Homo sapiens: one gene and its partners. The protein of the gene in region 7 interacts with the protein of the main gene of each other region in a pairwise test. Each region holds a gene or a part of one and is shown on either strand. Other genes may lie near its edges.

Region 1 (4,423 bases), on a different chromosome or scaffold from region 7:
TTTATGTACCCAGGTACTCTAGAGGATACCAGCCCACATTATCACATGAACCATTTCCTTCAGCCTGCTGAATTAGTTTCACAAAGAAACAAAGCTTATTATAAAGGCATTTTAAAAACCATTATCTTAAATTCTTTTTAGAAGCACTGACTTTTTTTTTTTTTTGCAACCATTTATATACAGTGTTACATAACAGCTCTGGAGTACAGTACATGCAGCAGAATATACCTGTTGAATATAAAATACTTTCCTTAAAATCTTCATCATTGGAATTCCTTGAAGTCTAAATCATAGAATGCCCATTACTTTGAGAAAATGGTTGAGGAGTACAAATGTCTGCATATGTTGGCCACTGAAATAATCCAAGGCTAACTGGAATAATATTCATAGCACACCAGGAGTGCATAAATAATTTACTTACATTATTAAAATACAACCCATAAAATTCAAGTTCAAGATCTTATAGGATTGTCTATGTAAATCCTTTAAGTGGTTGCCTGGAAATGCATTGTTTCTTCTTTCTCTTCTCTTCTTTTTAAAGTCCTATATAAAATCTTCAGCTGAAGTTTATTTCTTCATCAAACAAAAGGACCACCTTTATTTGTGTCTGCTGCCTCTTCTCTTCATTGCAGCAGTGCACTGTGGACAGTACCATTTGCCTTTTGGTGCCTCTGTCAATCCAACGCAGCCATAATGGAACCATTCTATAGGGCACTAGAAAGCAAAATTGCAAAAAACAAGTTTTCAGTACTTCTGAAGACAAGAGAGTATATTAAAATATGCTCAGGAGACTGAATAATCCATTTAATTTAACAATAATTAGATGTGTGACATCAGAATTTTTAGATCTAGATTATTTAGACATCATTTAGACTAAATGATAAGCTTCAGGAATGAGGAAATGAAGGCACAGAAAAATTATGCATCTTCAAGAATCCTGAGGTCCATGTAATCTAGTCCCCTCATCCTAATGAATGAAAATTCACTAGTTTTCAGCTTTCAAGGGCAAAAAGAAGTGGGATGAATCTTCTATGTAGAAGGTAAATATAACTTAAGATTTTATTTAATAGTCAGCCTTATTTGCTGTCTCATAAAGTAGAATAAGCTGATTGTAATTAAAGACATTAATTTATGTCTTATGCCCTGCATTTCCTACGTGGGTGTTTCTATTCCTTGAAATGTAGAGAAAAATTATTCCTCTTTGAAACATATTAAGCAGAAAACTCTTTCATGAAAGTCTTAGCACTCAGAAGAGCACAACTGGGAATAAGAAGAATCAGAGAAGCATGATGCTGGTACTCATAGAAATCTCATTCATCATTTTCACTAACTGCCCCAGAAGAGTTTACAGTGATGTTCTTGAAATGGTTGGGCAATATTGTTTTTGCAACAACCACAAACAGCCTACAAGGGATTCTAGACAGGGAAACAGAAGGAGGCTCTGTCCCAATCTACGTGAGCATGTTGCTGTAACCCTATCAGGTCTAGGAAAAGTACACATTTTAATGCACCTAGCCAGCTCCCTCAATCTTCAGATTGTTTTACAAATTTAAAACTCTTGTTAATCTTAGGATCCTGTCACTACTAAATAAGGAGGGAGTCAAAATTACTAGACAACAATATTCTCAGTATTGAATAAAAAACGTATCTCTAACTAAAATTAAGTCTCCTAAAAACCAAGAATTCCTTCCTTTCAAATTTCCTTTACTTTTTAGATCAGGGGTGGCTCTTATCAGCTGACACCTGCAGAGTACAGGAAAAAATATTATACTCATGAGAGGAAGATAATCTCACATTAGATCCTCAATTATCCCACCCTTCACTTTAGCACGGTGCAGCCTGAAAGAATGAATTGTTTTAAAATTCCATTTCTTCAATGTGATAAATGAACTGGATTCTAGTAAACACAGTATTTTTTAGTAAAGGGAAAGGAGGGTATTTATAATTTTCATACAACATAACACTTCTGAGACAATCTGCACATAAAACCATAAAATTAGCTTTAAAAATTAAAATAGGGAACACATTAAGGGACACTACCCTATTTTGAAGAGGAATATTCTAGCATTAGCATAATATAACTAATATACCTGCAAACCTGTTTTCTTAGACCAAACCATACAGCAAATAAGACAAATATTCAAGTAATAACAACCTGTGATTTTTTTCATTCCTAAATAGAAAAATGTAATACTTACATCTTGGTTATCACATCCCACCATCTCACCATAAGATACCTAGTTAAAAAAAATTAAATGTCTTTATTATGACTATGTAACAAACACCTAGATACCAATTAACTGTTTATGTATGATACTGCTGGAAAATAAAGGGAAATACACTGAATATACAATTACATTGAGAATCAAGGTATAATAATTTTTTCCTGAAATACTCTTTTGGGCAGGGTGGGGCAAGGGTGGGAAGAAATGCACAGGAATTATCTGCCCTTCAGAAGTCTGGAAGAACTTGACATATAAATCACCCGGATGAAGGAGTCATCTTTCTGGGTAGTTCTTATTGTAAAAATTTTAAGTTCCTTTCTTGATTATTTACTTACTGAAAGTTTTTACTTCTTGGGTCACATTAGGTCATTTATATTTTTGCAATTAATAGTCTCCTTCCTTGAAACTTCTAAACTTATCTATTTTATGTCCTTTCTCATTTTTCTTTTGCTCTTCATCACCAGCACTTTAGGGCATAACTTGCTAATTCTTGAGTTCACTGAAGTTCTCAGTGGATTGAATAATTTTTCAGACAGGATTAACTAGATGGCATATCTTCTGATTCTCTGCATGAGTGAAAATATATTTACATGGTCCTATGCAGAGAAATAACTTCTCTGAATATCAAGTTTTTGGGGGCTCTTAATTTTTCCCTGAAAGCTCTACAGACATATTCCATCACCTTCTAGTTTTTTAGTGTTACAGAGGAAAACTCTAGGTTCAGTCTGATTTTGTTCTTTTGCAAGTAATCTACTTTTGTTGTCAGGATACAGGATATGCTTTTCTATCATTTGTACTGAAAAATGTTTATCGGGTGATAGTGGAACAGCTAACAAATTGTTAAAATTTTTAAAAATCAGACTGGCAACTCATACTGTTAGACACAATAATCTGCTGATAGACTAAGTCTTAAATGTGAAGAAACTGAAGCATGCAAAGAACTAGACAAAACCATATAAAAACTAGGAGAAAATATTATACAAGACAATTTTTTGTAGAAAGAAGAGCCAAAGAGAAAGCCCTTCTAAGTATATAATCCATGGCTTGCTTCATAAAAAAAAATTAACAGTCATAACTACATAAAATTAAAATTTTAGAATTATTTTTAAAAAACTAAATCAAGCAAATATTTAGAGTACATAACAAAAACAATAGAAAAATCAGCCGACACCATTAGGAGTCGATTCATAATGTAAAAAACAAAAATGGTCAAAAAATGTCCAACTTCAATAATACTAGTGTATTTAAAACAATCATAATATAAAACTACCAAATTGGTACTTAGTTTTTAAAAGAAAATAATATCCAGTGTTGGACAGGGTTTAGTAAACCGGTATGTTTATTAATTTTTGGTAATAAATTTCTAGAAAATATATTTTGGTGTCTGTCAAATATTTACAGCCTAATTTTATTTCTAAAAGATTATCCAAGAAATTAGATGTATAAAATGGATTACATTTAAAAAATGCCTATCGTAATATTATCCCTAATTTCAAACAAATTAAAACCACTAATATAATCTATAGCTAGGTATTGGTTAAGAAAACTACACTGGATGGCATAAGAGATAACTATGTGAAAATTAAAAATATGATCTTAAAGAAAAATCATGTTCGGTATACCTGATTTAGAGAAAAAAGCCAGTAACAAGAAAGTATACACTGTGGTTCCTACTGACAAACTTATACACACATGCATGTGCAAATCTGCATAGACACGTGTTATGAAATGCAAGCTTATGTCTCAAAATCATATGTTGAAGCCCTAACCCCCAACGTGACTATAATTGGAAACAGGGCCTGTGAGGAGGTGGTAAAGGTTAAATGAGGTCATAGAGTGGGGTCCTACTCTGACAAGGCTGGTGCCCTTATAAGAAAAGACACCAGAGCACACTCTTTCTCCCTCTATCATGTGAGGACCCGGTGAGAAGGCAGCAGTCTCCATCTAGGAAGGGAGCCCTCCTCCAGAACTGAGTCAGTGGACACCTTGATCTTGGACTTCCCAGCCTTCATACCTGTGAGAAAATTATTTTCTGTTGTTTAAGCTACCCAGTCTGTTGTATTTTATTAAGGCAGCCAATGTGCACATGAGGTATATGGTAGTGGTATACCAAAAATGTTTAGTTACAGGTTGTATCTGAGGGCTAGGATTATGGGTAACATTTTTCTTTATACTCAGTATTTACAGCAAATGTCACT
Region 2 (4,423 bases), on a different chromosome or scaffold from region 7:
ATCCCAACACTTCAGGAGACTGAGGCTTGAGGATTACTTGAGCTCAGGGGTTTGAGACCAGCCTGGGCAACATAGTGAGACTCTGTCTCTACATAAATAACAAATTTAAAAAAATTAGCCAGGTGAGGTGGCACCCACCTGTGGTCCCAGCTACTCAGGAGGTTGAGGCGGGAGTATCCCTTGAGCCCAGGAGTTTGGGGCTGCAGTGAGCTGTGATTGCACCACTGCGCTTCCAGCCTGGGTGACAGAGCCAGAAGCCATCTCAAAATAAATAATAAGGTCTATTCATTTTTTAAAAGATCCTTCTAGAGAAATCATGTTGAACATCAAGGGATGAGTTCCTAGCAATGCAGTTTTGGGGATAGAGGTTTAGGAGTTACGCCATTGTCACTAGCACGTTCCACCGGTTTTTCTGGTGCACACCCGAACCTCCTCCAGTGCCAATCAAACAGATCTGATTCCTTCTTTCAGTTCTGCAAGCATGGCCAGTGACTTCAGGAAGCGGAGGAAGAGCGAGCCTGCAGTGGGTCCACCACGGGGCTTGGGAGATCAAAGTGCGAGCAGGACTAGCCCAGGCCGAGTGGACCTCCCAGGATCAAGCACCACTCTTACAAAGTCTTTCACTAGCTCTTCTCCTTCTTCCCCATCAAGAGCAAAAGGTGAGCATAGTAAATGAAAACACAACAATTTACTAGTTTACGTTTTAGCCTAGAGCACTGTGTGAAAGCTGGCCCAGTGATAGTGGCATGTGCCAGCTCTCACCTACAGTGTCTGGAATAAAATATAGTTTTAGAACAATAGCCTTCTTCCCACCCAGACTGACTCAAGCTGGCGAGCCACTTAGGTTGCTTAAAGAACTCTGACTAGCATCTGCTAATGCTTTTTTCCCCCAAATAGATCCCTTTCTAAACAAATTGAAAGTATCAAATAATGTATCATCAGGCTACTAAAAGATGTATTTTGTAAACATTGACATATAGTCAAAATTTTCTAATGTTTCTACAACTAGCAAATTAGTCAAATTTATAGGATAAAAATTACAAGCAGCAACAGAGCAAATTGTTGGCTAAAATATACATTGGTTTGGAGGGTTTTAAAAAATTATTCAATTCTAGATTTTAAAAAAATCCGACCTATTAATTTCTTTAGCCATTTGCTGTATATTTTGGGCCACCTTCACATGAACAGTGGAGCATCCACCTCCTGCCATGTAACACAGTGGTCAATTCACAGCAGCTCACAGTCAGGACTAATTGGTCCCAAACCATAATGATATCACTGAGGAATCACCAAGCCTTTTTTTCTGGATGGCCCGTCTCCTCTCTGCAAGTGTAGGGAGCTCACTGTTGAAAGAAGTCACTCCTTCTGGTTTCTGGAAGACCATTTAGTGGTATTCCTTGAGGACAGGAATATTTCTGAGATGGAGAGTGAGGATTGAACCAGCCCCTACAGGGAGCTAGGGCTCTACCAAATGTGGGACCCCACAATCTCCTCTAATATCTTGGGATTGAAAGAGAAGAGAAAGAGATTTTGAAATGTGTAAAGAAATTGAGCTCTAATGTAAGTTTCTATAAAACCAGACCAATTCAGCTACACCTATCAACTATAGTCACTAAAACCATTGCCACATGGTAGTTAAAAGTGGTAGCTGATTTGTGTGCAAAAGGTATTCTGGTCGTGATGATTGGACTCTGAGTAGGTGGATGCCTAGCCCTTTTAAGGCCTTGTAAAGCTGTGATATCAGCTGATGGTTCAGGGCGTGTGAGCCCCATCCATCACATCTTTCCTCTGAGGAGCAGAGATGCCTTATCAGATTCAACTCACTTATTCAAATGAATATCTTAAGGTAACAAGTAGGTCATGAAATGCCATTGACCTATTATTCTTGGATACTAGCCAAAAGTTAAAAGGGTTCTGATAAATGTAGATATTTGTTTCATCACAGGGAATGTTAAATCAACTTCCTTTCCCAGACAGTACAGATCTACCTAATGTGCTTATCTACTTTTAAAGAATTTAGAGAACATTGTAAGGTATAAGTATTGAATAGAGATATTTTCCTCCATTAGATTTTATTTCTAGGAAGAAAATGTCCTATTAGATATAATTTGGCTCCTCATTTATTAGTTGACTCAGCAAAGCAAAAGAACATTTCCATAGCTATTCAAAATTGAGGCCAAATGTAGATCTCTATTATCAAATTGCAAATGATTTTTCAAAGAACTCTTCCGAGAAAAAAAGCATGGTATATGCACCTCTGATGAAAGTTTTGCATTATATTCAGTTTTCCTATGAGAATTTTGTACCTAATAAAAGGTTAAAGGTAGAGCAATTTAAGAGGTAAATTCGTTTGTTTAAAGAGCTTTAGCTATTTTTTTCTAGAAAAATGTTAGCAGCAATAGTTCACAGCATTTTGATTTTGCAATTTTGGAGAATACTTTGCCTTATAGCTTTTAAAATCTAAAACCCACAAAAAATTATTTGATATAGTCATGAGAGTATTAATTCGATGTAAATGTATAAACCCTTCTTCACCTATGTATCATTACGAATCAAATGAGGCTCAAATTCCGGCCCTATTAAATTGCGTAAGGGTATAACACTTTTGACACTAATTGTTAAACCTTCACTACCAGATCATGCTATCAGCTGAAGCAGCACTATTGTGTTTTGGCAAACAATATTGTCAGAAAGGTGTATGAATTATGCAGTAGGAGTAGGTGTATTTGCTTACGTCGGTTGCTTCTTATACACAGTTTTGTCAACTCTCTCTGCAAAGCTACATTCACTGAAAAAGTATTAGCTCGCTTTAGAATTAGACCTTCTTCTCTAGAGTTGAAGCTCCATGTGTGAACAATCAGCACCTAGATTAAAACACACTAACTGCTTTCTCCTTGCTATGCTGTCTGATGCTTTACTGACATGCTCTCCTCTCTTTGTGAACCTTTTAACTTCTCCAAATGTCTCTCTTCTACCACGCTGCTCTGGATTAAAAGGTGGGGATGATAGCAAAATATGTCCATCCCTTTGCAGTTACTCAGGGCTCAACGGCAACCCCTCCAGTGAGTTAGATTACTGTAGCACTTACAGACAGCACTTGGATGTCCCTCGGGACTCACCAAGAGCCATTAGTTTCAAGAACGGCTGGCAAATGGCCCGGCAAAACGCAGAAATCTGGAGCAGCACGGAAGAAACCGTCTCTCCCAAAATCAAATCCCGGAGCTGTGACGATCTCCTAAACGACGACTGCGATAGCTTCCCGGACCCGAAAGTCAAGTCGGAAAGCATGGGCTCCCTGTTATGTGAGGAGGACTCCAAGGAGAGCTGCCCCATGGCGTGGGGGTCCCCCTACGTCCCGGAGGTTCGCAGTAACGGCAGATCAAGGATCAGACACAGGTCAGCCCGCAACGCCCCGGGGTTCCTGAAGATGTACAAGAAAATGCACCGCATCAACCGCAAGGACCTGATGAACTCCGAGGTGATCTGCTCCGTGAAGTCCAGGATTCTGCAGTACGAGAGCGAGCAGCAGCACAAGGACCTGCTGCGCGCCTGGAGCCAGTGCTCCACGGAGGAGGTGCCCCGGGACATGGTGCCCACACGCATCTCCGAATTCGAAAAGCTGATCCAGAAGTCCAAATCCATGCCAAATTTAGGGGATGACATGCTGTCTCCCGTAACCCTAGAACCACCGCAAAATGGCCTATGTCCCAAGAGGCGGTTTTCCATTGAGTATTTGCTGGAGGAAGAAAATCAAAGCGGCCCCCCCGCTCGGGGCCGGCGAGGCTGCCAGTCTAACGCCCTGGTGCCCATTCACATTGAAGTCACCAGCGATGAGCAGCCCCGAGCACACGTGGAGTTTTCCGACAGCGACCAGGACGGGGTTGTGTCCGACCACAGTGACTACATTCACCTAGAGGGGTCATCCTTCTGCAGTGAAAGTGACTTTGATCACTTTTCCTTCACATCCTCCGAAAGCTTTTACGGATCCAGCCACCACCACCACCATCACCACCACCACCACCACCGCCACCTCATCAGCTCCTGCAAAGGCAGGTGCCCGGCCTCCTACACTCGATTTACCACAATGTTAAAACACGAAAGAGCCAGACACGAAAACACCGAGGAGCCCAGAAGGCAAGAAATGGACCCTGGCCTTTCTAAACTTGCTTTTCTAGTCAGTCCTGTGCCTTTCCGGAGGAAAAAAAATTCGGCTCCTAAGAAACAGACTGAAAAGGCAAAATGTAAAGCATCTGTGTTTGAGGCTCTGGACTCTGCCCTTAAAGACATCTGTGACCAAATTAAAGCTGAAAAGAAAAGGGGGAGCTTGCCGGACAACAGCATCCTGCACCGCCTCATCAGTGAGCTGCTGCCAGATGTTCCCGAGAGGAACTCATCCCTGAGAGCGCTGAGGAGGAGCCCCCTG
Region 3 (4,423 bases), on a different chromosome or scaffold from region 7:
TCCACGTGGGAGTTGAGGGTGAGTCTTGGGCTTCCGTCCAGGAGTACTAGGGGAAGAGCAGGACTGGGGAGGCTGCCTGAGGCTGGTTTCCAAAACACTGACTTTGAGTTGCCTTGGAATCACCCAAGTGGATTTGCAGATTTGGATCTCAGGAAAATATTCTAGACTGCAAACTTTTAAAAAGATTTGGCCTCAGGCAGCTGCATGGGGAGGAGTGTCAGCACTGCAGGCGTGGACGGAGGCCTGAGAGCTGCCAGGAGAGCTGGCAGGGAAGAGGAGGCGGCCCCCTGGGATGGAGACAGCTCTGGGGAGTGTGGTGGCCATGATGTTCCATCTGTCAGCTACATGGTTTAGCTCAGAAGGGGAAAAGTGTAACCAGGTAGAGGCTGAAGGAGGGCCAGTAGGCAGGCAAAATGGTCTCATCTTACAGAGAAAATAGTGACTTATAGAGATAATTATTTAGAAGTCTGAGCCCTCCTACTCTTGTTCTAATAACTAACAAGTTATTGTCAAGAATTCTTTTAAAACGAAAATATTTAATTCATGGTATTCAGGTTTCCTGTGCACGGAGCCTCTGCGCTGCGTTACTGTATTTATTCATCGGCCTTTGTCCTTGGGCGTTTCATCCTTCAAGGGAAGCCCTAAGTGATCCATGGTGTGGTGTGTTCCTCACAGGTTCATCCCGAGTTACTCCCTGAGTCTTCAGGCGACGATGGCCAAGGGCTTGTGACTTCTGCAAGCGACGTGACTGGAAACCACGCAGCACTTCACAGGGATCCTAGTGTGTTCTCTGCTGGTGATTCCCCAGGGGAGGCTCCTTCTGCGCTGTTGCCAGGGCCACCCCCTGGTCAGCCTGAAGCCACTCAGCTGACAGGGCCAAAACGGGCTGGCCAGGCAGCTCTGTCAGAACGAAGCCCTGTGGCTGATCGGAAGCAGCCTGTTCCTCCAGGACGTGCTGCGCGTTCAAGCCAGTCTCCAAAAAAGCCGTTCAATAGTATTATTGAGCACCTGTCAGTGGTATTCCCATGTTACAACAGGTATGAACAGAAAATGTCTGTGACTGTGTTTAATACTTTATCGAACTGAGGTTTCCTGATTAGATAAAATCATGGCTAGTTAGGTGTTAACATGAAAAGGGTTGCATAATTGTTTTGCTCAGAAAGACAGTTGCTACATTTCTTTCTTTTTGTAAATATAGAGATAAGTATTTTCAAATAAATTGGTGGGTTTTTTCTTTCTTTTTTTTTTTTTTTTTGAGACAGAGTCTCACTCTGTTGCCTAGGCTGGAGTGCTGTGGCACAGTCTCGGCTCCCTGCAACCTCTCCCTCCCGAGTTCAAGCGATTCTCCTGCCTCAGCCTCCTGAGAAGCTGGGATTATAGGCATGCATGACTAAGCCTGGCTAATTTTTGTATTTTTAGTACAGGTGGGGTTTCACCATGTTGGCCAGGCTGGTCTCGAACTTCTGACCTCAAGTGATTCACCCGCCTTGGCCTCCCAAAGTGCTGGGGTTACAGGCATGAGACGCCACACCCAGCCTCAAATAAATTTTTTAATGTGCATATGTAAATTGAAAACATTGAGCACTGGGTAATATTCATCAGAACCCATGACAATTTGCTAAGATTTTGATGAGACCAATAGCACTGTCTAAAACTAGTGTTATAGTATCAATAAATGAACGCAAAACAATAATTTTGCATCATTTGGGGGGACAAAATTATATATAGCAAAGAAGGCAGCAGCAACTTAAACCTTGTTATATAAGACCTCTGATTTGTTAGAGTGTGAGGTTGAAGACTGGATGGAATTCCATAGTGAATGGGGCATGTGGACATGTTAACAAGGGGTCCTTGTGAATGTGGGAAAAAGCTGCCCTTACCTGAGTGAGCAAGAGCTGTAAATAGAGTTGGGATGATGGCAGGCTCTTCAGTAGCGTTTCTGCCTCCACCTCTGGTTTCCGCTGTTCAGGTTGTTACGAGGGGGACAGAGTTGCCTCTTGTCTCAGCTGTGAAAGATGATGAGGTAGAGGCGGTGTCTCTGAAGTGCAGCTCGGATCAAAGGACTCTATGCTCAGGAATGACCTTTGGCATGTGCCCTATTATTTCAGTTTCTGAGACAGTGTTAATTACAGGCTTCAAAATTGAAATTTGTAAACAATGGGGCAGTTAAAATATGATTAGCCAGCAGGCATGGTGGCTCACGCCAGGCCGAGGCAGGTGGATCACCTGAGGTCAGGAGTTCGGGACCAGCCTGACCAACATGGTGAAACCCCATCTCTTCTTAAAAAAAAATGGCAAAACTCGCTTGAACCTGAGAGGCAGAGGTTGCAGTGAGCAGGGATCGCGCCACTGCCCTCCAGCCTGGGCAACAGAGTGAGACACTGTCTCAAAAAAAAAAAAAAAGTTATGCTTTTTAGATAGTTATTGTTGTTATCAGTGGTCTTCAGATTAATTTTATGTGCATTTGTCTTTGTTTCTTTGGGTTGGGCTGTTGGATTAATATTGGCATGTAATATTTCTTAGCAGTAGAGAACTTTCTGTTGTCATTCATCACTCACTCTCCCTTTCAGCACTGAGCTTGCTGGTTTTATTAAAAAAGTGCGAAGCAAAAACAAGAACTCACTCTCAGGATTGAGTATTGATGAAATTGTCCAAAGAGTGACAGAACACATTCTAGATGAACAGAAAAAGAAAAAGGTATTTTATCTAGATGTTCCAGTTTATCCTTATTTATTTATAAAATATGAGAATTGTTAAAAAAAAAAAAAAGCTTCAAACCAAAACCTAGAGAGCAATGTACTAAAGACAGAAGATGGTCAAGTTGTTGGATAACTGGTTGCTTCCCTCTTGTCCCCTCCCCGCCACCCCTGTTATTTTCGCAGCCAAACCCAGGAAAGGACAAGAGGACTTATGAGCCCAGCTCTGCCACCCCCGTGACCAGGTCCTCCCAGGGCTCACCCTCGGTGGTTGTTGCACCATCACCCAAAACCAAGGGGCAGAAAGCAGAAGATGTCCCTGTGAGGATTGTATGTATAACTGTATAGTTTTGTTTTTTAATGAAAAACAAGAAGCAAACAAAATTTTTAATCCATGATTTAGCCCCATTCATTTCTAGACCTAATTTATTTGATCCCAACATTAGAAACTGAATTTCAATGTACTTGAATGTGTCCAGTTAGAGCAATCAGTGAATGGCCGAGGTCATGGTGTCTGCTGTGATACGTTTGGGCCCAGCATGGAGAGAAGCCCCTGCACATGAGTGACAAGGGCTCTGACCATCGTGGGGGATCTGAGCCTTCTCTCTCTTGCCCTTGTTTTGCTGCAGATGGTCAAGTACATGAACTTTGTACATCCAGTGTGGTATTTTGAACAGTTGGGGAAATCATTTTTGAATAATTTTCTTCTGTGTAACCATGGCTTTGGAATTACACAGATGTGTCAATGTGTCGTGTGGCCACACCCACCCCAAGATAGACCGTGATTGCCTGGAGAAGAGGGTTCTGTTTTTGCTTCATGATGGATGTTTGTAGTAACGAAGATATAAAAGCTGACTTACTGAAACTTCACCAGATTGTATGAGAAAGAAAAATATGTGTTCAAACTGGGACCTAATTTGATAACCATAGTTTGTTAAAATTAAAAGTATTAATTTTCAAATTACAAAGTATTACATACAATAGAAAATACAAATAAAAAGGGCATTTAAAAACCCGCCCTGTAATCAGTATTACCACTTTGGTATATATTTTTCTAAACTCTTGAATGCATGGATATGTGAATTAGTCAAAACTGAATACGCTAGTCACACTTTGTATGTTCTCTGAGGGGCTGAATGTTTTGGTTGTTTTCCATTTTTTTTTTTATTGTGGTTGTCCTTTTTTTCTTTTAGTTAGAAATATACTGTGCCCATCTTTTCTAGGAAATAGAAAACGGTCAAGTTAAGTGTATATTTTTTTCAAACTAAACCTGGCTCCGAGCTTTGCACTGGGCATTGGAGAGGCCTTCAATGGCTCTTCCCCGGTCTGGCACTTCCTCTTCTTCCCTGACCCTCGAGTCATGGGCAGCAGTGGAGGGGCATGAACCCTCCTTCTGCAGCATCTGCCCCATCTCCTCCTGGGCCGAGTCATGCCTTGGGAGAGACAGCAAAACCCTGAACAGCAGTTCAAGGTCTTCTCAGCCTTGGGGTGATGCCTCCAGTGCCACTCCCTGAACTTGATCCCACTGCCAGGGCTGCCTGCATTCGCCCACTCCCTCAGCAGGGGTTTTTAGAGCATGAGTTTGAGCTAGGTTTTCTGCCAGCTGCTAAAGACCCAGATGGGACTCATTTTGTGCCTTCAAGGCGCTCAGAGTTAAGAGGCAGTGAGCTAGAGTAGAAGTTAATGGTGCAGTAAGGGTAAGTGCTGTGAGCTGCAGGGAGAACTGT
Region 4 (4,125 bases), on a different chromosome or scaffold from region 7:
CGGAGATGGGAGCAGACAGGGCGACGGGTCCTGCCGGTGCCACATGGGGTACCAGGGCCCGCTGTGCACTGACTGCATGGACGGCTACTTCAGCTCGCTCCGGAACGAGACCCACAGCATCTGCACAGGTACGGGCTACGCCTGGGCTGGCCCCGGGGTTGAGGCGGGATGACAAGAGCCCCTTGCTGGAGCTGCCTGCCTAGATGGGAACAGGGGCCTGTTGATCTTTAACCCCAGATGTCCAAGGAAGCTTCGAGGGCCCAGAAGGATGAATGAAAACATCAGAGGATAGAGGCAGAGGTTGTCGGGCACTTCCTGTCCCGTAACAGCCCTCAGAAGGGAGAAGCTACTCACCTTTCTCTCTAGTTCAAGGTCCACCCCGACCTTGAGTTGTGATGGGCCATGCAGTGCACAGGTCCTGGAGGTGCCGTGTGGGCCCCGCACCGGCCCAGAGAGCAGCATCTGTCAAATCCCTGCAGGCCGTTATGAGTGGCATCTTTCCAAAGGACGTTTTCTCCCTGGTTGTCACTGATATGTAGGAAAACTCTGAGTGTCTCGGACGTGAGTGTGTGGTTGGCCGGCAGCCCCTAGGCTATTCTGGGCAGACAGACCCGTGGATCGATAGTCAGGACCGGCCTCTCCGATTCTTACGCCCCTCAGCAGTCAGGACCGGCCTCTCCGATTCTTACCCGCCTTGCTGTCTGTCTCTTGGATGTTGGCGTGGCGTGGGCCACGCATGGATCCGTGGCCGGAACACGCACACCCAGCCAGGCTACAGCTCCAGAGTATGGATAGCTGCCTTCTCTCCAGGTTATTAAAAATTCCTTGGAGTCCTGGTTTGCTGAGAATTTTAAATTCATGGGCACTGAAAATCCCGTGTTGCTTTTCCCTCTTAAATTCCTCACTTTTAAACGAGCCTTGTCCCCAAGCTGGTACCTGAGAGTGGGGTTTGTACCCAGGCCCGCCTTTGCCTTCCAGCCTGTGACGAGTCCTGCAAGACGTGCTCGGGCCTGACCAACAGAGACTGCGGCGAGTGTGAAGTGGGCTGGGTGCTGGACGAGGGCGCCTGTGTGGGTGAGGAGCGGCCCGGGGGTGGAGGAGGGCGCCTGCGTGAGGCGTGGGGGGTGTGAGATGGGGGCGTAAGGCGTGGGGGGTGTGAGGCATGGGGGCGGGAGGCAGGGGGGCGTGAAGTGTGGGGGCGTGAGGTGGGGGCGTGAGGTGTGGGGCTTGGGGTGTGGGGGGCGTGAGGTGTGGGGGAGCATGAGGTGGGGCGTGAGGTGTGGGGGCGTGAGGTGGGGGCGTGAGGTGTGGGGGCACTCACTGTCTCACTCTCACACAATGTGTCGCCATCCTCATGGGGCGCCTGCCCCGGTTGGCACTGAGTGTCTAAGGACAGGGCCTGGCCATCGCCTCATCCCCTCCCCTGCCGCGTGGGGCCTCCGAGGATGGCATTTGAGATGATTCCTCCTCAGGGGCTGCCCTCCTCCCTGCCCTTCCCCAGCCGGCCCTGGCCACGGGCTGTGTCAGGCCATGATCGGTCCTTCCCCGCTCCCTGGCCGGGCTGTCCTGGGCCGCTCACAGCTGTGCCGCTCTGTTCCAGATGTGGACGAGTGTGCGGCCGAGCCGCCTCCCTGCAGCGCTGCGCAGTTCTGTAAGAACGCCAACGGCTCCTACACGTGCGAAGGTGGGCCAGGCGGGCGGGTCTGCACTCCGGGGCCTGCCGGGTTTCGTTGCTGCCTTTGTCAACATTCATTTATGGCTTCTTAGTGTCACTTCCATACATCCTGCCTGCCCTGAGAACACTTAGTGTGGCAAAGTAAGTCATAGGTATTTGCTGCAGGAAAATCAGAAAATTCAAGTCAGATGAAAAGAAAACAGTTAAAAACCCAGGAACTCCCTGGAGAGCGCACCCTGCTGGTGCCTCCACTGCTCGTGCCCCCCCAGCGCCCCCGCAACGTGCCCTGCGTGACTTTCCGCAGCGCCTGTCGGGTGTTTTCCACTCAGCAGCTTGTTGCGAACGTCTCTGCGTCCTGTGGTTTCTCTGTCACGCTAATGATTTTGGAGCCATTATTTCATACTTTTACAACAATGTCTGTTGCTGGACGTTTACGTCATAACAGTTTTTCAACTTATAAACTGTGAACACTTGAAGGTAAACTTTTCACATTCCTTATGATTTTCTGTGGATTAATTTCCAAATCGCTCAGTCAAGGGAATGTGTCTTTTAGAGCCATAGTGCCCCAGAAAAGTTGTGCTGATCCCCAGTCCCAGCAGCAGGGAGGAGGCCGCCTCTGCCCCGTGTGTGTGACAGCCCCAGGCAGTTTTCACTGTTGGGAGTGCAGACAGTGGGTCCCTCAGTGAGCCACTAATACTGGAAGCCATGCGAGAGGCTCTGGTTATTCTTAGGAAGCTCCTGGCAGGCTGGCAAACCAATGGTCACCGAGCTGGAGGTGGGTTTGTTTCTAGAATCTCTGTAGCACCCAGTTTCTCCCAAAGAGTTCCAAGCCAGGTGGTCTGCACCATGGCTCTCCGGGAGCACCTGCTGCACAGCAGGACGCGAGTCTGTGCTTTTGCCGGGAGACAGAGACAGATCGTTATAAAGTCACTTGGTGATGAATGAGGAGAAAACCCAAATCCTGGCGGCACCGGTGCCTTGTGCATGTCGGGGTCTGACGGGCACTGGTGCCTTGTGCATGTCGGGGTCTGACGCTGGCTCCCTGTTGCAGAGTGTGACTCCAGCTGTGTGGGCTGCACAGGGGAAGGCCCAGGAAACTGTAAAGAGTGTATCTCTGGCTACGCGAGGGAGCACGGACAGTGTGCAGGTCAGTGACGGGGTCTGTGCTGGACGCTGGTGGACCCTTCCCAAGTGACCATGATGTGAATGGCCCCAGCAGGTACTGCCAGGGATGGGAAGCAGTTGAGACCCGTCCTGCAGACGTGGCTCCCCCAGGGTCACTGTGCACTCGCCCTGAGGTCCACGTGAGACACAGAAGCAGTGGGGGTGGGGGACGGGCTCTGCATGGCCGACCCTGGTGTGGATGGCGCTGCTGCACCAGCCTCTCGCCGGTGGCCTCGTTCCCCAGGTCCACCGCCTCTGCTCTCCCTCCAGCTCCTGGGTGGCGATTGCCCCGAGGCTTAAGTCCAGGCCTGCCATGGTTGTGGGCTGCCTGGGTGAGCCTGGGCGTGGATGGAACCCGGTGGAGAAAGTGGGTTTCCTGGGCAGGCGCCATGGTTCATGCCTGTAATCCAGCACTTTGGGAGGCTGAGGCGGGGGGATCACGAGGTCAGGAGATCGAGACCATCCTGGCTAACACGGTGAAACCCCATCTCTACTAAAAATACAAAAAATTAGTCGGGCGTGGTGGCGGGCGCCTGTAGTCCCAGCTACTCGGGGGGCTGAGGCAGCAGAATGGCGTGAACCCGGGAGGCGGAGCTTGCAGTGAGAGGAGATCGCGCCACCGCACTCCAGCCTGGGCGACAGAGCGAGACTCCGCCTCAAAAAAAAAAAAAAAAGGAAAAGAAAGTGGGCTTCCTGGGCGCATGCTGGCCTTCCGGCCCCACCTGGAGGTCTCTTCTCTGCATTTTCTACCAGTTGAGGGCCCAACTTGGAGACGTGAAATTCTTCCCTCTCGAAGCCTTTCCTGATCTTTGCTCCTTTCTGTAACGTGACGTTTGTCATCGTTGTGCTTTCTTTATGTGAATGAATCTGAATGAATGAATTTCATAATCCGCTGCGCGTCTGCTGAGCAAAGTAATTATTAAAACGGAGTCTTTTCATTTTAGATGTGGACGAGTGCTCACTAGCAGAAAAAACCTGTGTGAGGAAAAACGAAAACTGCTACAATACTCCAGGGAGCTACGTCTGTGTGTGTCCTGACGGCTTCGAAGAAACGGAAGATGCCTGTGTGCCGCCGGCAGAGGCTGGTGAGTGGCACGGCTGCCCTCCACACAGGCTGCCCTCCCCTGGGCCGCAGGGCTTGCACGTAGACTGGCTGCTTGGTCTGAAATCCACACAGATGGTGGCCTTGAGATGGTGAGAGGGGGATTCCCGGAAGACAGGTGCATGACATCTCTGTGTGGGCACGCTTGCGCGAGAGGTACTGGCTTCCTGAGGATGAAGCCCCA
Region 5 (4,423 bases), on a different chromosome or scaffold from region 7:
TTGGGGGTAGGAAGTTTCACAGAGTGAGCTTTTGAGAGTTTGTACTTATGTGTCTGTGTGATACATACATGTTTAAGAATAGGTGTTTGTGGCCAGGCATGGTGGCTCACGCCTGTAATCCCAGCACTTTGGGAGGCTGAGGCAAGTGGAACACCTGAGGTCAGGAGTTCAAGACCAGCCTGGCCAACATGGTGAAACCCCATCTCTACTAACAATACAAAAATTAGCCGGGCGTGGTGGCGGGCACCTGTAGTCCCAGCTACTCACGAAGCTGAGATAGGAGAATCCCTTGAACCCGGGAGGCAGAGGTTGCAGTGAGCCAAGATCACGCCATTGCACTCTAGCCTGGGCATTAAGAGGGAAAATCTGTCTCAAAAAAAAAAAAGGTGTTTGGGTTTTTCATTTTTATATCAAGTCAGAATCCAACCCTTCCACCCTCTTTTTTTTGAAGGACCCCTTCCTTCTCCTCAATCACCAGTGCCAACAGTGTTGATCTTCCTGCCTGTTTCTTCTTGAAATTTCCCCAGCCAATCCCAGTATCTAGAGCATTTGTTCAGAAACTGCAGAACTGCACAGGTGAGTTTTGAGCATCAGGATCTAGTACTTGTTATAAATGTGAAAAAGAAACTTCAAAGTCAGGTTATCATGACGTCTTTCAGTCTTACATGCCTCATTGAAGTATTACTGGTAAAGATGTTATAGTGCTTTGTACTAGTAAATGCTTAGTAAGTACTCTTTTGGGTGAATGAATGTAGATATCAAGGGGAAACTGAGCTGTCAGTGTTTTCATCTTAACATGATCATTATATTGATTCTTGTTTTTCCAGGAATTCCATTGTTTGAAACTCAACCAACTTATGCACCCCTGTATGAACTGATCACTCAGTTTGAGCTATCAAAGGACCCTGACCCCATACCTTTGAATCACAACATGAGATTTTATGCTGTAAGTAAAGCCCTAGGGAGCTAGAATGTTGTAGGTTATGTTTGGACCCAAGATCATAATCTTCCTTTATAGCATTATTGAGGTCAGATAAGTTTCTTCAAGACTGCTGGATCATGTCCTATTTCTTTAGTAAGGCAGGAAATTACAGAAATCTCAGAAATGGGCTGGGCGCGGTGGCTCACACCTGTAATCCCCGCACTTTAGGAGGCCAAGGCAGGCGGATCGTGAGGTCAGGAGTTCGAGACCAGCCTGGCCAACATAGGGAAACCCTGTCTCTACTAAAAATACAAAAAATTAGCCGTGTGTGGTGGCGGGTGCCTGTAATCCCAGCTACTCGGGAGGCTGAGGGAGGAGAATGGCTTGAATCTGGGAGGCAGAGGTTGCAGTGAGACAAGATTGTGCCATTGTGCTCCAGCCTGGGTGACAGAGCGAGACTCTGTCTCAAAAAAAAAAAAAAAAAAAAGAAATCTCGGAAATGTATTGAAGTAAAAGGGCATGAGCTTCCATTAGGAAACAACAATGTACAGTTCTTTGTTGAAATTTTGGGTGATTGGCCAGGTGCAGTGGCTCACACCTGTAATCCCAGGAATTTGGGAGGCCAAGGCGGGTGGTCACTAGAGATCAGGAGTTTGAGACCAGCCTGGATAACATGGTGAAACCCCGTCTCTACTAAAAATATAAAAATTAGCTGGGTGTGGTGGAACATGCCTGTAATCCCAGCTACTTGGGAGGCTGAGGCAGGAGAATCACTTAACCCGGGAGGCAGAGGTTGCAGTGAGCCAAGATTGCGCCACTGCACTCCAGCCTGGGCAACAAGAGCGAAATTCCGTCTCAAAAAAAAAAAAAAAAAAAAAAAACGAGGCTGGGCGTGGTGTTTCACATGTCTAATCCCAGCAGCACTTTGGGAGGCCGAGGCAGGTGGATCACGAGGTCAAGAGATCGAGAGCATCCTGGCCAACAGGGTGAAACCCCATCTCTACTAAAAAAATACAAAAATTAGCTGGGTGTGGTGTCATGCACCTGTAGTCCCAGCTACTCGGGAGGCTGAGGCAGGAGAATTGCTTGAACCCGGGAGACGAAGGTTGCAGTGAGCCAAGATCGCACCACTGCGCTTCAGCCTGGCAACAGAGCAAGACTCCGTCTCAAAAAAATAAAAAAGAAAAAGAAATTTTGGGTGATAGACTTTTTTTTTTTTTTTTGAGACGGAGTCTTGCTGTGTCGCCCAGGCTGGAGTGCAGTGGTGAGATCTCAGCTCACTGCAAACTCCACCTCCCGGGTTCATGCCATTCTCCTGCCTCAGCCTCCTGAGTAGCTGGGACTACAGGCGCCTGCCACCATGCCTGGCTAATTTTTTGTATTTTTAGTAGAGACGGGATTTCACCATGTTAGCCAGGATGGTCTCGATCTCCTGACCTCGTGATCCGCCCGCCTCGGCCTCCCAAAGTGCTAGGATTGCAGGCGTGAGCCACCTTGCCTGGCGGGGTGACAGACTCTTAATGGTATTTTGAACTTTTAGAATATCATAATTAGGTGTTATAAATTCTTACTGTTTAATTCTTTCAAGTGCCATGAGCTTAGAATCTGGAAAGATCCTGAAAGTACTTACAGAGAGGAAAATGCTGGAAGCAGTAATTAAGAGGCTGGGCACAGTGACTCACACCTGTAATCCCAGCACTTTGGGAGGCCAAGGCAAGGCAGATCACTTGAGCTCAGGAGTTCAATACCAGCCTGGGCAACGTGGCAAAATCCTCTCTTTTTTATTTTTTTATTTTTTGAGATGGAGTCTAGCTAGCTCTGTTGCCAGGCTGGAGTGCAGTGGCGCGATCTCGGCTCACTGCAACCTCCGCCTCCCAGGTTCAAGTGATTCTCCTGCCTCAGCCTCCTGAGTAGCTGGGACTGTAGGTGTGCACCACCATGCCCAGATAATTTTTGTATTTTTAGTAGAGACGGGGTTTTACCATGTTGGCCAGATTGGTCTTTATCTCTTGACCTTGAGATCCACCCTACTCCGCCTCCCAAAGTGCTGGGATTACAGGCGCAAGCCACCTTGCCTGTCCTTTTCTTTTCTTTTTTCTTTTTTTTTTTTTTGCTCTTGGTGCCCAGGCTGGAGTGCAGTGGCACGATCTCGGCTGACTGCAACCTCTGCCTCCCAGGTTCAAGCGATTCTTCTGCCTCATCCTCCGGCAAAATCCTGTCTCTACAAAAAAAAAATACAAAAATTAGGCTGATGTGGCCGGGAGCGGTGGCTCACGCCTGTAATCCTAGCACTTTGGGAGGCCGAGGCGGGCAGATCATGAGGTCAGGAGATCGAGACCATCCTGGCCAACATGGTGAAACCCCGTCACTACTAAAAAACACAAAAAATTAGCTGGGTGTGGTGGCGGGCGCCTGTAGTCCCAGCTACTTGGGAGGCTGAGGCAGGAGAATGGCGTGAACCCGGGAGGTGGAGCTTGCAGCGAGCAGAGATCGTGCCACTGCACTCCAGCCTGAGCTACAAGAGCAAGACTCTGTCTCAAAAAAAAAAAAAAAAAAAAATAGGCACATGTGGTTGTTCATGCCTGTAGTCTCAGCTGCTCGGGAAGCTGAGGGGCTTCATCCTGGGAGGTAGAGATTGCAATGAGCCAAGATTGCACAATTGTACTCCATCCTGGGTAATGGGAGTGAAACCCTGTCTCAAAAGTAATAATAATAATAATAAGGGAACGTTCCAAAACCTCATCTGGACTTGTATTTATCTGAATCTTTTACAATAGACTAAAGTAGTGGTTACCAAATTCTGGCTGCATTATTATTATATAGGTGTTTTATTAAAAATAGAGAATTTGCAGCCGGGCGTGGTTGTTTATTCCTGTAATCCCAGCACTTTGGGAGGCCCAGGTGGGTGGATCACGAAGTCAGGAGATGGAGACAATCCTGGCTAACACAGTGAAACACTGTCTCTACTAAAAATACAAAAAAAATTAGCCGGGCGTGGTGGCGGGTGCCTATAGTCGCAGCTACTCAGGAGGCTGAGGCAGGAGAATGGCATGAACTCGGGAGGCGGAGCTTGCAGTGAGCCGAGATCGCACCACTGCACTCCAGCCTGGGCAACAGAGGGAGACTCTGTCTCAAAAAAAAAAAAAAAAAAAAGAGATTTTGCATTTATGGTTTAGGAACCTCTTTAATACAGATTTCTGAGGTAGTTTTTATGTTAGCTAGGTTAGGAAATCACTAGCATAGTGCATTTACTAAAAAGACATCTTTTCAGCCTAATTAGTAATTGATTGACATTTATAATATCAGCTGATGAAAACATTCACTGTGGAGACTTTTCTGCACTTTTTTGAGTAGTAGGTTTTTTCAGGATACTTTGTGGTTGGAATACAATAGGTAACTAAATAGCACTCGTTAACTGTTCTTTTTGCCCAGGCTCTTCCTGGTCAGCAGCACTGCTATTTCCTCAACAAGGATGCTCCTCTTCCAGATGGCCGAAGTCTA
Region 6 (4,423 bases), on a different chromosome or scaffold from region 7:
AGCTCAGGAGTTGGAGGCAGCAGTGAGCCATGATCACACCACTACACTCCAACCTGGGCAACAGAGGAAGACCCTGTCTCAGAAAAACAAACAAACAAACAAACAAACAAAAAACATGGTGAGGTTTGAAGTAGTATTCGCTATCAGGTGACCTCAAATGAGGGAAGTACTGAGAAAGAGAAACTGCCTTCTCTAGCAACTAGAACTTCAAAAAACTCACATGACACCAAGTCATATGGCATTGCTGTTATAACAAAATTGTCTAAGATAGGCTTATATTTAAAAAATTGACTTATGATACCCGGGATACACCATGTAGGTAGGAAAAGGAGGTTCTGAGGGTGATCTTGAAGATTTATTGTTAAGCAAAAAATAATAATAATGTGATGAAGGGTATACTAGCTTCATCATAAACAGTGAAAGAATGATTATATTCATATTTGCTTAAAAATCCATAAACTGGCCAGGTTCAGTGGCTCACACCTGTAATCCCAGCACTTTGGGAGGCTGAGGTGGGAGGATCACCTGAGGTCAGGGGTTCGAGACCAGCCTAGGCAACATAGTAAAACCTCGTCTCTACAAAAAATAAAAAAATTAGCCGGGCATGGTGGCGTGCACCTGTAATCCTAGCTACTCGGGAAGCTGAGGCAGAAGGATTGCTTGAGCCCGGGAGGTCAAGGCTGCAGTGAGTTGTGATTACACCACTGCACTCTAGCCTGGGTGACAGAGTGAGACCCTGTCTCAAAAAATAAAATAAATGAAAATACATAAACTATGTCTGGAAGGAGACATAAGAAACAGTGGTTGCTTCTAGGGAGAGGAACTGGGTGGCTATAAGATGGGGTGAGAAGGAAATTGTTTTCACTGTGTATCAAGTTATACCTTTTAAATTATGTATTATGTGCTTGTGTTACTTTAATAAAATAAATTAGTAAAAGAATTTTCCAAAGTGATTGGGACTCAGGTTCAAGTACTTGTGTGGATCTTGTCCTGCCTCAACCTTGACCCTGTTTAAGTAAGAGTAAACGGGAGGAGGGAAATAGAAACCCACAAAAAGTCATCAGGGTTGAAGGATTTCTTTCTCTTTGTTTTTTTTCCTTTTCTTTTCTTTTCTTTTTTCTTTTTTTGAGAAAGAGTCTCACTCTGTCACCCAGTCTAGAGTGCAGTGGCGTGATCTCGGCTCACTGCAACCTCCGCCTCCTGGGTTCAAGCGATTCTCCTGCCTCAGCCTCCCGAGTAGCTGGGATTACAGGCAAGCGCCACCACACCTGGCTAATTTTTGTATTTTTAGTAGAGACGGGGTTTTACCATGTTGGCCAGACTGGTCTGGAACTCCTGACCGCAAGTGATCCACCTGCCTCGGCCTCCCAAATCTGCTGGGATTACAGGCATGAGCCACCATGCCCGGCCAAGATTTCAATAGCTTTCCAGAAGACAGAAAGCAGATGGAGGAATGACCAAGGAGAGTTGAGACAGCTAGAGCCTAGAATGTGCATACAGGAGGCACCAGCCAAAGAGGCTGGGAAGATTAGTTTAGTTGAGCATCTTGCCATCCCAAACAAGATCAGGGATATGTAAGTGAGAAGTGGGATGTTGGATTGGCAACCAGTTATAATAATCTAAAAACCACTTATTGATTTTTACTTTTTAGAACTCACTTAGAAACAAATCATGAAACAAATAACAGACTGTAAATATCAGCACCATGACAATATTAAGGTACACATGTCCATGATAGGAAGTTGGCAGGTAAAAAGGGGAGAAAAATCGAAAGGAAGAGGCCTGTAATCTTGTTCTGTTACAAAGTGGGGAGTCAAGAAGTAGGATCTGCATTGGTTGGACAATAAATGAAGGAGTGAATGCATTACATAAAGTTCCAAGCCAGGTGTGGTGGCATGTGCCTGTAGTCCTAGCTACTCGTGAGGCTGAGGCAGGAGGATCATTTGAGCCCAGGAGGTCAAGGCTGCAGTGAGCTATGATAGCACCACTGTACTCTAGCCTGGGCAACAGAGCGAGACTCTATCTCTGGAAAAAGAAAAGAAAAAATCTCCAAAGCAGAAGTTGCAAACTGTTTTATTTCGACCACATGTCTCTGTTTTGTTTAGTAAAAATCAGGGGACTCCAACTTCTTTTTAAAGTATCAGAAGATCTGGCATCGCTCTCCAGGTGGCCCCAGCTCTCACATTCCTTACTGATGCCTCAGCCAGAAGCCAGTGTTGGCTACCGATCACCCTATATCTGGGGTGTTATTTTTCTCATACACGAGTGCTTTCACTCACTTGGTCCATGTAGGTTACACTAAAAGCACGTATACATGATGGAAAGGTACAGACCCATGAAAAGCTAAAATAATTTTGAAAAACAAGAGAGTAGGAAGACTCAGTCTGCACAGTTTCAAAACTTACTGTAGTATAGTCTCAGTAAAGACTATGTGGTATAGACATGCAGATCAAGGGAACAGGATAGGGAACCCAGAAACAGACCCACAGAGATATGCCCAGTTGATTTTTAACAAAGATGCAAAAGCAACTCAATGGTGCTGCAGCAATTGGAAACTCATCACCAAAAAGGGAAATGCTGACCTGAACCTTACCTTCTAAAATGGATATGGACTTACATGTAAAGTGCAAAACTAGAAAATATATTTGAAAAAAATAGAAGAAACTTGTCAGGATCTAGAGCTAGGCAAAAAGTTCCTATACATGACATCAAAAGCAGAATCCATTAAAGGAAAAATTGGTAAATTGGACCTCATCAAAATGAAAAACTCTTGTTCTGTGAAAGCCCACATGAAGATTGTGAAAATACAAGCTACAGACCGGGAGAAACATTTACAAACCACATATCCAATAAAAGACTGGTATATAGAATATAAAAAGAGAGTGCTCAATACTCAACAGTAAAAACGAACAATCTAATTAGAAAATGGGCAAAAAACATGAACAGATATTTCACCAAAGAGGATATATAAAGATGGCAAATGAGGATATAAAAAGATATTCAACATCATTAGCCATCAGGGAGAAATGCAAATTAAAACAACAATGATATATCACTACACATCTATCAGAATAGCTGAAATAAAAAAATAGTGACAATACTCATAACTGGTGAAGCTGAGGGAAAATTGGGCATCTCATACATTGCTGGTGGGAATGTAAGTGATATGGCTTCCATAGAAAATAGTTGAACACTTTATTAAAAAACCAAACACACAACTACCATAAAACCCAGGGATGACACTCCTGGATATTCACCTAGAGAAATGGAAATTTATGTTCACTCAAAAGCCTGTACATGAATGCTCATAACAGCTTTATTTATAACAGCCAAAATCTATAAAGAACCAAAATACAGGTGAACAGTTAAAGCGTGGTACATCCATACCATGGAACACTTCTCAGCAATTAAAACAAAAAACACTATTGATACTAAAACAACTTGGGATCCAGCTCAAAGGCATTATCCTGACTGAAAGAAAGCTAATCTATTTCAAAACATCACATACTATATGATTCCACTTATATAACATTCCTAAAATGACAAAATCATAGAGACATTGAACAGAGTAGTGACTGCAAGGAGTTGCGGGGATGGGGTAGGGAGGAAGACAAGTGTGACTATAAAGCGACAGCAGGAGAGAGGCCTTTGTGGGGATGGAACAGTTCTCTATCTTCATTGTGGTGGTGGCTAGAGGAATTTTATTTTATTTTATTTATTTTATTTTTTTGAGACAGACTTTCACTCTTATTGCCCAGGCTGGAGTGCAATGGCACGATCTCGGCTCACCACAACTTCCGCCTCCTGGATTCAAGCGATTCTCCTGCCTCAGCCTCCCGAGTAGCTGAGATTACAGGCATGCACCACCACGCCCGGCTAATTTTGTATTTTTTGTAGAGATGGGGTTTCTCCGCATTGGCCAGGCTGGTCTTGAACTCCCAACCTCAGGTGATCCGCCCGCCTCGGCCTCCCAAAGTGCTGGGATTACAGGTGTGAGCCACCATGCCTAGCTATGTCATATTCTTCTTATCCAGCTTTATTACAGTGATTGCTTTTTACATGTCAGCCTTTAAATTAAAGACTCAGCAAAGCTTACTAGAGGCAGAACCATTCCAGCTGGAAAAGTTCAAGAGTTGCCATCCCAAAGGTTGGTCTTTCAGATGTGCTTATCCAACAAGACGTTCCTCTTTACGATGACTAAGAGTCACTATCACGCTTACCCAGAAGTTGCAAATGATGACTAAGAAAAACGGAAACTTCCAACGTGGTAACTAAAGTACACACTTGCAACAGTAAGTTTTCCAAAAGCAAAGCACAATTTTCTCCACCGTGAACTTGTCCCTGAGCCACCCTGTCTTCATGAGACTCTCAGAAAGGGAGGGTCAGCTCTCTGTGACCTCATCTTACAGAACTCCTTCAACTA
Region 7 (3,139 bases):
AGTGACCCTGGTCTCCTGTGTCCCAGCCCTGGCCCCTGGGCGCAGACCCCCAGTCCCGAGATGCCCGCCAGCAACGCTTTGCCCACTTCACGGAGCTGGCCATCATCTCAGTCCAGGAGATCGTGGACTTCGCTAAGCAAGTGCCTGGTTTCCTGCAGCTGGGCCGGGAGGACCAGATCGCCCTCCTGAAGGCATCCACTATCGAGGTAATGGTCCATCTGCCCACAAGGAACCCCAGAGATAGCTCCAGGACAGATGCTGGGAGCAGAGTTAAGGAAGACCAGTGCTTGCCGTTGTAGGATGACATTCCACGGCGAATAGAGTCTTCTATGAGCCAAGGAGAGAAAGGAAAAAGGGTCTGAGGCTGAGAAAATTGAGGATCAGGCTAGAGGCGCTATTGCAGAGAAAAGTTGCCAAAAAGGCTTTTCAGAGGAGTTAGCATTTGAATCAAAGTAGGGATAACATATAAGTATTGAGCACGTGCTGTATGCCAGGCTCTATTCCAAGTGTTGGCATATGGGGCAAAGAACAAAGCAGATCAAACCCCGTGCCCCAAACCTTGTGCTCACCTGGGGAAAGAGTATCCTAAGGAGATGGGGATGCAGCATGTGCGGAAGCCTGAAGTGGAGAAAGAGCTCGGGCTGTCTCACGTGATGGCTGCACGCTGGTGTGGCTGAGAGAACAGGGGGGAAGGGGACAAGGGATAATCCTGGTGAGATTAGACCCCCATTTGGGCCAGGAGGGGAGGGACTAGCAGCTGAAGGGTCACAGGGCTCAAGCTCCCCCTCCCGCTGCCGCCCTTAGATCATGCTGCTAGAGACAGCCAGGCGCTACAACCACGAGACAGAGTGTATCACCTTCTTGAAGGACTTCACCTACAGCAAGGACGACTTCCACCGTGCAGGTAGGGCCCAGGGGAGGCTTCGGGGAGGCTTGGCGCCCCTGCTGGCTGGAAGACCTGGGGCCAACTCATCCCTGTTGGAGTCTCTGTTTCTTTATCTCCAAAGTTGGGGTGAGGGTTGAGCCAAGGTGAGAGTGAGGTAAGAGTGCATGTGCCACGTGTGGTGGTGCACGCCAATAGTCCCAGCCACTCGAGGCTGAGGAGGGCAGATTGCTTGAGGCTATAGTGAGCCGTGATTGTGCGACGGCATTCCAGCCTGGTGACAGAGAAGACCGTGTCTCTATTTTTTAAAAAAAGCATGTATTGAGTGCCGACTCTGTACATTGGGTTGCAGTGGAAGTTGAGATGGGAGGAGCCCTGTTACCACATCAGGCATCTTGGTGGGCATTAGGAAAAGCATTCCCCGCCCCCGCCAAAACGTGGTCTCACCCAAGGGAGGCGGGCTGGAGCTCGGTCCATTGTGAAGCGGGCAGCCTTCTTTACTGTCTAGGGGAGCACTGCTTCCTGCCCTCTGAGAGCGCTAACCTGCGTGGGTGGGCTTCTGGAAGAAGGCCTGGGCAGTGAGAGGCACTGCCTAGGAAAAGGGTGGGAGGAGCATTGCTAGTGCTGCAGAGCATGCACCAGGGCCTCGCTCCCTCATTGTCCCACAATCTCTGGGGGACCTCTCTGTATTTCCCGACATCTGTCCAAACCCCACCCTCTCCCCTTCCTCTTACTCCGGCCCTTTCACCACCCGAGACGGTCCCAGTAACCCTTTTAGTATGAGCTTAGCAGGGCAGGGCTGCAGGGAAGCGTTTCTGGCAGAGGAGATTGGCGATTGCAGAGGCCCTGAGGTTGGGGAGAGCTGGTGGTTTGGAGGAACTACAGGGAGGCCCAGGCAGCTGGAGCACAAGGAGATGGGGTGGAGAGGAGGTCGGGAATCCCACCCTACCCCTTCCCAGCCGCTCCTCTGCCACCACCCTGGAACACTGCCAGGGTCCCCTTGAGGGGCCGCCTGCCTCCACCCCTGCCTGATGGGGCTGCTCACAGCACAGGCAGAAGGGTCCTGTCAGCACTTAAGGCTGCCCACTTCCCTCCTCCGCTCAGAACCCTCCGCGGCTCCCGTCTCACTGGGAGAAGAGCTAGAGTCCTCTCTGTGGCCCACAAAGCCCTTTAGGACCTGGCCTCGCTCACTCTCTGCCCTCAGCTCTCACCCTCTCCCCCTGTTCCAGCCACTCTGGCCTCTTACTGGCACCCATCCAGCATGCTGCAGCCAAGGGCCTGTGTACTTGGAGTTTCCTCTGCCCAGAACTAGGGGGACCAACTGGTCCTAGTTTGCCCAGGACCTTCCCAGTTTTAACACTGAAAGTCTCATGGCCTGGGTAGCCCCCGTCCCAAGTCATGGGAACAGCAGACGTTGGTCACCCTCACAATCCCTCATCTCCTTCGGATTGGTCACTGCTCCAGCGTCACCCAGAGCGCAGCCTTCCCTGCCCGCCTTGTGTAAAATAGAACCATGGCTCAGCAGGGCCCTTCACACTTCTCTGCACTGCCTGGTTCCATTGAACTCACAGCCCTCTGACAGGCTGGGCCTCTTCCTAATGTGTTTGTCTATGACCGGTCCCCTAGGCTCTCAAATGTAAGTGCTGGAGCCTGGCACGTGGCAGGTACTCAGTGACATTTGATGACTGAATGAACAAGTCAGTTTTGGGAATGAGTTTGGGCTTTACCTTGAGCAGTGGAAGCCAGCGCTGGGACCAGCACGATGTGACCTAGGTTTTAAAAGCTTCCCTTTGCCTTTGTGAAGGGGACAAGAATAGGGACTCGGGAAGCTGCAGCCACCGCCCAGGTGGGAAGGGAGGGTGGTGATAGGATAGTAGAAAATACTGAAGAAACATGCACCCTCATTCATTCCTTCACTGGGCAGCATGTGTGGCACACCTACTACATGCCAGCACTCATGGGCACGGGGCACAGGTGGACAGAAATGACAAGAACGCTGTAATTACTGCTGTGTTCCCAGCCCCAGAGACTGTGGGCAGCGCCAGGGTCCAGGATGTGGGGCACGGTTTCGGGCTGAGGGAGTCACGGGCTGCCTCCCGCCCCGCAGGCCTGCAGGTGGAGTTCATCAACCCCATCTTCGAGTTCTCGCGGGCCATGCGGCGGCTGGGCCTGGACGACGCTGAGTACGCCCTGCTCATCGCCATCAACATCTTCTCGGCCGACCGGCCCAACGTGCAGGAGCCGGGCCGCGTGGAG

Evidence for each region.
Region 1: the proteins of NR1H2 (region 7) and ING3 interact in a two-hybrid assay, tested with the Homo sapiens proteins (one study listed by BioGRID).
Region 2: the proteins of NR1H2 (region 7) and SORBS2 interact in a two-hybrid assay, tested with the Homo sapiens proteins (one large-scale study listed by BioGRID and IntAct).
Region 3: the proteins of NR1H2 (region 7) and TTC3 interact in a two-hybrid assay, tested with the Homo sapiens proteins (one large-scale study listed by BioGRID and IntAct).
Region 4: the proteins of NR1H2 (region 7) and CRELD2 interact in a two-hybrid assay, tested with the Homo sapiens proteins (one large-scale study listed by IntAct).
Region 5: the proteins of NR1H2 (region 7) and MED1 interact in a two-hybrid assay, tested with the Homo sapiens proteins (2 studies listed by BioGRID and IntAct, with this or other methods).
Region 6: the proteins of NR1H2 (region 7) and MPP1 interact in a two-hybrid assay, tested with the Homo sapiens proteins (one large-scale study listed by BioGRID and IntAct).

The regions. Positions count from the first base shown.
Region 1 is NC_000007.14:120,971,019-120,975,441, reverse strand, and holds part of ING3 (inhibitor of growth protein 3), read right to left. Parts: intron 4,242-4,423; exon of another isoform or gene 4,097-4,241; intron 2,238-4,096; coding exon 2,199-2,237; intron 715-2,198; coding exon 598-714; 3' UTR 1-597. UniProt on the Homo sapiens protein: Component of the NuA4 histone acetyltransferase (HAT) complex which is involved in transcriptional activation of select genes principally by acetylation of nucleosomal histones H4 and H2A.
Region 2 is NC_000004.12:185,623,068-185,627,490, reverse strand, and holds part of SORBS2 (sorbin and SH3 domain-containing protein 2), read left to right. Parts: intron 1-471; coding exon 472-659; intron 660-2,996; coding exon 2,997-4,423. UniProt on the Homo sapiens protein: Adapter protein that plays a role in the assembling of signaling complexes, being a link between ABL kinases and actin cytoskeleton. Can form complex with ABL1 and CBL, thus promoting ubiquitination and degradation of ABL1.
Region 3 is NC_000021.9:37,195,000-37,199,422, forward strand, and holds part of TTC3 (E3 ubiquitin-protein ligase TTC3), read left to right. Parts: intron 1-675; coding exon 676-1,037; intron 1,038-2,570; coding exon 2,571-2,697; intron 2,698-2,882; coding exon 2,883-3,026; intron 3,027-4,423. UniProt on the Homo sapiens protein: E3 ubiquitin-protein ligase which catalyzes the formation of 'Lys-48'-polyubiquitin chains. Mediates the ubiquitination and subsequent degradation of phosphorylated Akt (AKT1, AKT2 and AKT3) in the nucleus.
Region 4 is NC_000022.11:49,921,634-49,925,758, forward strand, and holds part of CRELD2 (protein disulfide isomerase CRELD2 isoform b precursor), read left to right. Parts: coding exon 1-128; intron 129-237; coding exon of another isoform or gene 238-272; exon of another isoform or gene 273-361; intron 362-660; coding exon of another isoform or gene 661-810; intron 811-978; coding exon 979-1,074; intron 1,075-1,600; coding exon 1,601-1,684; exon of another isoform or gene 1,685-1,827; intron 1,828-2,726; coding exon 2,727-2,822; intron 2,823-3,783; coding exon 3,784-3,924; coding exon of another isoform or gene 3,925-4,037; exon of another isoform or gene 4,038-4,125. UniProt on the Homo sapiens protein: Protein disulfide isomerase. Might play a role in the unfolded protein response. May regulate transport of alpha4-beta2 neuronal acetylcholine receptor.
Region 5 is NC_000017.11:39,419,850-39,424,272, reverse strand, and holds part of MED1 (mediator of RNA polymerase II transcription subunit 1), read left to right. Parts: intron 1-451; coding exon 452-576; intron 577-827; coding exon 828-946; intron 947-4,354; coding exon 4,355-4,423. UniProt on the Homo sapiens protein: Component of the Mediator complex, a coactivator involved in the regulated transcription of nearly all RNA polymerase II-dependent genes.
Region 6 is NC_000023.11:154,795,022-154,799,444, forward strand, and holds part of MPP1 (55 kDa erythrocyte membrane protein), read right to left. Parts: intron 1-4,423. UniProt on the Homo sapiens protein: Essential regulator of neutrophil polarity. Regulates neutrophil polarization by regulating AKT1 phosphorylation through a mechanism that is independent of PIK3CG activity.
Region 7 is NC_000019.10:50,378,976-50,382,114, forward strand, and holds part of NR1H2 (oxysterols receptor LXR-beta), read left to right. Parts: intron 1-26; coding exon 27-206; intron 207-804; coding exon 805-904; intron 905-2,990; coding exon 2,991-3,139. UniProt on the Homo sapiens protein: Nuclear receptor that exhibits a ligand-dependent transcriptional activation activity. Binds preferentially to double-stranded oligonucleotide direct repeats having the consensus half-site sequence 5'-AGGTCA-3' and 4-nt spacing (DR-4).